Linked DNA regions of Homo sapiens. The protein of the gene in region 2 binds, or shares a complex with, the protein of the main gene of each other region. Each region holds a gene or a part of one and is shown on either strand. Other genes may lie near its edges. The genes, in order: SCTR and SCT. A codon is read from its position in the direction of its gene.

Region 1 (3,600 bases), on a different chromosome or scaffold from region 2:
TCTACCTGGCTTTGCACTGTCCCCAGTATCCCAGTTGGCATTTCTCCAAATTGGGAGTCAAAACTCATGAGTGCATGCTGTTGCTCTAGCGTCTTCCAAGGCCAGCACTGCCACTGAAGAGAGGAGGCTCCACGGTGGCAAGGGAGCTCCAAGCAAGCTCCAAATTGCACTCATCCCAACTACTGCTGCTGAAAGTCTTGGGGCTACCAGAAAAATGAGCATCTCCTGAGTGTCAACACTCTGGTCGGCTCCGGGAGCATTGGTTTTCCTTATAATCAAACCAGAGGAGACTAAGGGAAGACAAGGAGGCTGGACACCATGAGACTTGCCCAGGACAGAGATCAGAGACTCAGTTGGGTCCCCAAGCGCGTTCCCTGGGGAGCTTCTTGGAAGAGACGACTTGGGGACCAATTTGGAATGCTAGTGGGAAGGGATGATTCTGGAATCTGGCCCCCACCTCTAACCCCCACTCCCTCCCCATTCCTTCCTTTCTGCTGGTCTGGGTGGGGCCACTCTCTTTATCAGAGATCCCGGAGCTCAGAGAGGCCCGGGACTCCCAGGAATTTCTGTTGGAAAGAAAAACAAACCACCCATCCTGCCGCTATTATTATTATTATTATTATTATTATTATTATTATTATTATTATTATTTTCCTCCTCCAGCCCCTTGCCAGGACCTGGCTTTGGGGAACAGCAGCGCCCTGGAGCCACCAGGCACGCAGACATTAGGGAGCCGCATCCCACACGAGACGGTGTGGGGAGAGCGGCAGGCGGTCCCATCGCAGACCCAGAAGCTCCTGCCAGAGCTCCCTCAGGTTTTCCCATCCGCAGCCCGTGAGTGTGAAAATGTCAAGGTTTGGGGGCAGACTGATACTGATGTGGGTTCCAATCCTCTTTTTCTGACTTGCAGCAAGAATTTTTATTCCCCCTCTCCTCTCCTTTCCTTTCCTTTCTTTGTCTGTAAAGTGACGGTGATAATAGCAGCCTCGAAAGGTGATTACCAGGTTTCAAGGAAAGATTGGAGGCAAAGCGCCCAGGACACAGTAGGCACTGCCACGGGCGGCTCCAGAATTTCCGTGTAGGAGAGTTTCAGAAGCCAGACCAGAGGAAGGGGTCGGTGGTGGGCACAGGGATTCATCTTAGAGCCGCCTTCGTCTGGCGCGCACGATGTTTTTCTTTGGGAAAGGGTCCCTCCGGAGAAGAGCTGGGAGAGATTAATGTTGGGAGGATTGGGAGGGAAGAGTCCCTATTCCTCATGGGAAGATCTGCTAGTCCCTCTCCACCTGCATCCTGCCCGAGGCCGGAGAAAGGGCGAGACTGTCGCTCCCTCGGGTCCCCAGCCTGCAGAAGGGCGCAGTACTCACCGAGTGCGCGGCGCAGGCGAGCAGCACCGGCAGTAGTAGCTGCTGCAGCGGCGGCGACAGGTGGGGACGCATGGTGCCCGCACGTTCCCCGAGGGCGCCCCGACGTCCGCCTGCCCGTGCCCTCTGCCCGCTCGGGAGCTCAGCGCCCCGCGCAGGGTCCCGGGCTCCGGCCGGCCGCTGCGCCCCGAGGAGCCATGGCTGAGCCACCCGACCTGCGGCGGGCCCCGGGACTGCTCCTCCTCGGACCAGGTGGCCGCGCGCGCTAAGCCGCCCGCCCCATTGATCAGGACGCGGCTTTGCCGGCGCGCCTCCTCCACCCGGCAGGGACTGGCGCGGGGTCGGCGCGGAGGCTGGCAGGGGAGGAGGCAGAGGGAGGGCGCGGGGACCCGGAGTCGGCTCCCGCAGGCTGGGCCCAAGCTGGAGGAGGCCAGGAGAGGGCACGCTGGCTTAGCCTTCTACGCGGCAATCCCGCCCAACCCCGGGTCCGGAAAGAGCACTGTCTCTGGAGTCCACGGACAGAAAGCGCAAGCTCGCTGGGGGCCGGTGGGCAACTTAGGTCACCTTTGTAAGCCTCGGCTTTCTCATCCCTAACAACACGTCTGATAATACCCACTCTCGGACTGAAAGTTGTCACACAGTCGAGGCCCATTGCATCTATTCCCCCCGATAGCTACCTTGCACTTTATTTCCGATTTTTTCATTATTGAAGTCATTAGCGCTAATTCCATGAAGTTTCACTCCCATGAACTCCTCCTTTGATGATGACCAAGGAGGATCTGTGGTACACTCAGGCATCTGGGGACCGTCCTGAGGATGAACCCCCTGGGAGGCTATTTAAGCCTCAGGCAGGTAGTCCCAGTAGCCCTCTCCATCGGTGCTGTGTATCCTGGAGGTTTGCTTTTGGCCTCTTAGTACAAGGCGTCTCTTAGTACAAGACGTCCTCTTAGTACAAGGCGTCTCTTTTGGCCTCTTAGTACAGGGCGATGGCCCTTTTTTACTGTTACATAAAAAAGAGAGTCTCACCATGTTGCCCAGGCTGGTCTTGAACTCTTGGGCTCAAGAGATCCTCTCACCTCGGCCTCCCAAAGTGCTGGGATTACAGGCATGAGCCACTGGGCCCAGCACTAGATGGGTCTTGCAAACTCAATTTTCCTTAGTCTGCACTGGTGCCCACTCCCTTCCTTCTTCTCTCTCCTCCTTTCTTGATCTTTCTCCCAGGCACTTTAAGTACATCAGCTCATTTAATTCTCCCTCACACCCCTAGGTGATACGATGTCCATTTGACAGAGGAGGGCATTGGAGGTGGAGGAGGATTCATTACATGTCTGGGTACTGCAACTCAGAGGCTCAGACAGGAAAGCCTGAATCTACCCTTACATGGCTGACCCGACTCTCTGTAACTGGCCCTTACGCAGAAGGCCATGCAGCTGTTAAGGTAACAATGTGTTGTCCTTAGCAGCCTTCCCTACCGGAAGAGACTATTAGTAAATTGAGGCTGGTAAATCCCAGCAGAAATAAAAGGGAGGAAAATCCATTCAGCTCCTAGGTCCAAAACCAATGCTCAGTACACATCAAACCTAAAGTATACATAATCACCAACCCCCTGCTAGAAACTCTTTCTACATAAATACTCACCCAAGGGCCTAATGAAATGTGCAAGGATGTTTGCGGAAGCACTATGACAGTGGCAGGAAACGAGATGATATATGGGGAAAGGGAATCACCCTTATTTCTTTCTTTCTCATGGGCAGCAGTCATTACTATAATGCTCCTGACTTGTTTCTACCCCTTCCCTCTCTCTGTCTGTCTATCCCCCACCTCTCTCTCATGTGCACCCACACGCAAGCATGCATGCAGGCACGTATACACAGGTGAGGCCAGCTTACATGATTGATGCATTTGGAATAAGGAACTGGCATGAGTTCGGTCCCCTCCTCTCTCCTTCCTTTGACAGTGTGCCCCCCTACAGAGAGCCTGTAACTGGATTTCCCTGGGCCAGGCTGTGATTAGTGGTCGAGGCTCTACTGGAACTGGTCCAGTATGAACTGTTGTCTCTCTAATTCTGGGGTTTAGTTAGGAAACCCACTTGCCTACAAGTATAAACCACATTCTGCAATACTGACTTTATAAAGTGATATTTGGCCGCATCTGTCTTGATCTTATTTCTCAATTGGTTCAAGTTTCAGGCTAGAAAGAAAAATGTTATTTCCTAGGCTGCTTGAACCGCAGCACCCTA
Region 2 (3,894 bases):
GCCCTGCTCTTTTCATTGGCCCCCCAGAAGCCCCCAGCTCTAGGGAGAGGCCACTGGGTAGGGTCGGGGCGAGGAAGTGGCTGTCGTGAGGGGTAGGTGGAGTTCTCCTCCTCCAGGCCTGTGCGCCGAAGCTTCTGGCCTCTCATGGCTGGGGCTGGGCTCAGTGTCCTAACCCTGCACGGTGCCCTCATGGTCGCCTTCAAGCCCTGCACGCTCCGTGCTCCACAGGCTCTGAGGGGTCAAGCCACTGGTCCGAGGCCACACGAGACAGAGGGTCCGGAGTCCTCACGCCAGAGTGGATTCCTGGCACCCCAGGTGACACCTCCACCCTCCCCTCTTCCTGCCCGCCTGAGCCCCCCTGGCCCCTTCACACCCTCCCCACTACCCCTTACAGAAACACTGACCACATGGGCCCCCGGGCAGGAGCTGAGAGGGTGTCCGGGATCCCCCGAGCCCCAGAATGTTTCCTAATGGATGACAAGGGGTGGGGCGGGGCCCTGCAGTACTTAGTCGAGGTACAGGAGGTGGCCCTGATGCCAGAGATAAGGATGAGGGGCCGCCGTGCCTGCAGGTGTAAAGGGCAGCTGGGTGTGGTCAGTCCCTCCTGGGTGGATGGGCCTCCATCCATCCCTCAGCCCCGCTACACAGGGGTTGCCTCGATTACACTGAGTGGACACAGACAACTCCCAGCGTCTGGGTCTGATTCCTCCTTTATTGGTGCCAAGTACCACCCCTCCCCCTCTCCCCCATCCTGCCCCCCACCCCAAATGCAGCTGCGCTCCTGGGCCGGGCAGGTGGTGAGGGGGTTCCTTCCTCATCTGGGCCGCAAGGTTCCTTCTGCAGCAGCGCCAGCTGGTTCTGAAACCATAGGCCCAGGGGGCAGCCAGGGAGACCAGGTCCCGTCCAGGGGCATCCTGCAGAGACAGCACGTGAGGGTCTGAGGGCTGGGGCTGGAGACCCCGGCCCCGCTGCTGGAATTGGGCCTCCAGTGGCCACCAGCGCTGACCCGGGGAGGCCAGGACAGAAGGAGGGGTCTGGGGTGGGGTCTGGAGTGGGGTCTGCGGTGGGGCGGGTGCTCACCAGGCCTGCAGGATGGGCATGTTGGACCCTGACGGGCAGAGCAGACCCGCGCTGAGCCTGGTCCAGGCCATGCTGTTCTCTGCGTCCTGCTCGCTGCCCCCCGCCCCAAAACAGAGTTAGTCCTGGAGCTGGGGGGTCGCGCGTTGCTGCTGGGGCACCACGCCAGGACCCCCCACCCCACCCGGCCTCACCTGCGCTTCCCCACCAGGCCCTGTAGCAGCCGCTGGAGCCGCGCGCCCTCCCGCAGGCGGCTGAGCTCGCTGGTGAACGTCCCGTCTGAGTGTCGCCGGGCCCTGCGGGCGGTCGGGGGTCGGGGTCAGGGCGCACTGGGGGCGGGTGGGGCCCGGGGGGCGGGCGGGCCTGGCGGGCGGCTCACCTGGGGGGCGCGGGGCGCGCGGCGGAGCCCCCGAGGAGCAGCAGCAGCAGCAGGAGGGGCCGGGGGGCCATGGCGGGGTCGGGGCGCAGGAGCTGAGCGCTGCGGCCACGGCCCCGGGCCCCCGCAAGGCCCCTTTATGGCGGCGCCCGGAAAGGGGACGGCCCGGCCGCGCCCAGCGATCCCGGGAAGGTCAGGGCCGCCCCCCCAGCTGTCGCCCCGGCCCGGCCTCCCGCCCCCTCCGCCGCGCTGGCGCCCCTCGGCCGGCTGGGGGAGGGGGACGTCCCGGCCTGGGGGGCGAACGGAGCGCGGGCCTGGGACCCGCAGAGGGAACCGCACCGCGAAGCCTCGGAGCCTGCGGGGGCGGAGGGGCCGGAGGGCTTGGGGGAGGGTTTGGGGGGGGACTGGGGGGCCCCGGGGAAGGGGCTGCGGCCGGAGTTCCGGAGGCCCCTGGAGCACCTTGCTGGGGCGAGTTCGTCTCCAGCTTCAGCGTGGCGTGACTGTTGGGGGGCCGGTGTTGCCATTTTATCTGCTTTGAAGTGCGCGATTCAGGATCATTCGGTGCATCCATCCCCACCATCCGTTCTCAGACTTTCCCGTCCTCCCAAAATCCGTTCACAGACGCTCCCGTCCTCCCAAAATCCGTTCACAGACGCTCCCGTCCTCCCAAAATCCGTTCACAGACGCTCCCGTCCTCCCAAAATCGTTCACAGACGCTCCCGTCCTCCCAAAATCGTTCACAGACGCTCCCGTCCTCCCAAAATCGTTCACAGACGCTCCCGTCCTCCCAAAATCCGTTCTCAGACTCTTCCGTCCTCCAAAAATCCATTCTCAGACTCTTCCGTCCTCCCAAAATCCGTTCTCAGACTCTCCCGTCCTCTCAAAATCTGTTCACAGACGCTCCCGTCCTCCCAAAATCCGTTCACAGACGCTCCCGTCCTCCCAAAATCCGTTCACAGACGCTCCCGTCCTCCCAAAATCCGTTCTCAGACTCTCCTGTCCTCCCAGAATGAAGCTCTGTCCCCATCAAACGCCCCCTCCCCTCCTCAGCCCCGGCGCCCCGTCCACTTTCTGTCTGTGGATTCAGCGCTTCCAGGGACTGCGCGCAGGGGGAGCCTCACGGGATTTGTCCTTTGGAGACCGGCTGGATTCTCAGCGCAGCATCCTCCGCCTTCGCCGCCGCGGCCTGGCCTGTGTGGGAATCTCCTTCCCTTTTGTGGGGAACTGTGTCCCGCTGTGTGCAGGGACCGCATCGACCGCGTCCGCTCATCTGTGGGCATCTTGATGGACACCTGGGCTGCCTCCCCTTTGGGGCGACGGCGAGTAACGCTGCTGTGAACGTGGGTGTGCAAACGGCGCTTCCCGATCCCGTTTTCAAGCGTTCTTGGTGTATAGTTATGAGGGAATTGCTGGGTGACAGAGTAATTATGTGTTAAATATTCTGAGGAAACGCCAAACTGTCTTCCCAGCAGCGCAGCAGGGACACGGTTCTTGTCCTCGCCAACACTTGCTACTTTGTGGCTTTTTGTTTGTCGCGTACTAACGATGCCGGTGGGTGCGACGTGGTGTCTCGCTGCGGTTTTGATTGGCATCTCCCTAATGGCCAGCGATGTGGAGCATGTTCTCAAGTGTCTGTGAGCCATTTATACATCATGGAGTGGACGGAGAAATGGCCGTCAAGCCCTTTGATGTTCTGCTGTGGTTGCGAGTCATGCACTGTATCCGTCTGTTAAATCAGCCACAATATTTTCCCCAGCGTTTGCATCATTTCACAGCCCCGCCAGCAATGTGGGGCTGGCTGGCTGGCTGGCTTGCTGGCTTGCTTGCTTTTCTTTCTTTCTTTCTTTCTTTCTTTCTTTCTTTCTTTCTTTCTTTCTTTCTTTCTTTTTCTTTCTTTCTTTCTTTCTTTCTTTTTTTCTTTTTCTTCCTTTCTTCCTTTCTTCTTCCTTTCTTCCTTTCTTTCCTTCCTTTCTTTCTTTTTCAGAGGGAGTCTCGTTCTGTCACCCAGGCTGGAGTGCCGTGGGGCCATCTCAGCTCACTGCAACCTCCGCCTCCCGGTTTCAAGCAGTTCTTGTGCCTCGGCCCTCCAAGTAGCTGGGATTACAGGTGCCTGCCACTATGACTGGCTAATTTTTATATTTTTAGTAGAGACAGGGTTTCACCATGTTGCCCAGGCTGGTCTGAAACTCCTGACCTCAAGTGATCCACCTGCCTCGGCCTTCCAAAGCACTGGGATTACAGGCGTGAGCCACAGCGCCCGGCCTCACTTTCTCTGCACACTGTCAACATCCCTGCAGTCGCTATTTTTAACCTTCAGCCATTCTCTCTGCGGCAACACCTCCTTGTGGTCTTAGTTGCATTTCCCCAGTGGCGGGTGATTCCGAACCTCTTTCCAGGTGCTTGTTTCCATTTGCATGTTGTCGTGGGTTAAATGTATCTTC

The links.
Region 1: the proteins of SCT (region 2) and SCTR are in contact, whole or in part, in a cryo-EM structure (PDB 6WZG), measured with the Homo sapiens proteins. Residues at the interface, in NP_068739.1 of Homo sapiens: His28 (codon at 1,363), Ser29 (codon at 1,360), Asp30 (codon at 1,357), Gly31 (codon at 1,354), Thr32 (codon at 1,351), Phe33 (codon at 1,348), Thr34 (codon at 1,345), Ser35 (codon at 1,342), Glu36 (codon at 1,339), Leu37 (codon at 1,336), Ser38 (codon at 1,333), Arg39 (codon at 1,330), Leu40 (codon at 1,327), Arg41 (codon at 1,324), Glu42 (codon at 1,321), Arg45 (codon at 1,312), Leu46 (codon at 1,309), Gln47 (codon at 1,306), Arg48 (codon at 1,303), Leu49 (codon at 1,300), Leu50 (codon at 1,297), Leu53 (codon at 1,288), Val54 (codon at 1,285); in NP_002971.2 of Homo sapiens: Arg30, Leu31, Cys32, Leu35, Asp71, Asn72, Pro117, Val125, Val127, Asn128, Asp129, Asn132, Arg135, His136, Leu139, Leu140, Leu142, Lys143, Tyr146, Tyr150, Arg188, Asn192, Lys195, Leu199, Phe200, Ser202, Asp203, Val205, Met219, Phe222.

What each region holds. Positions count from the first base shown.
Region 1 is NC_000002.12:119,522,791-119,526,390, forward strand, and holds the start of SCTR (secretin receptor precursor), read right to left. Parts: upstream 1,694-3,600; 5' UTR 1,437-1,693; coding exon 1,365-1,436; intron 1-1,364.
Region 2 is NC_000011.10:625,617-629,510, forward strand, and holds SCT (secretin preproprotein), read right to left. Parts: upstream 1,566-3,894; 5' UTR 1,528-1,565; coding exon 1,457-1,527; intron 1,374-1,456; coding exon 1,272-1,373; intron 1,174-1,271; coding exon 1,081-1,173; intron 915-1,080; coding exon 815-914; 3' UTR 693-814; downstream 1-692. UniProt on the Homo sapiens protein: Hormone involved in different processes, such as regulation of the pH of the duodenal content, food intake and water homeostasis.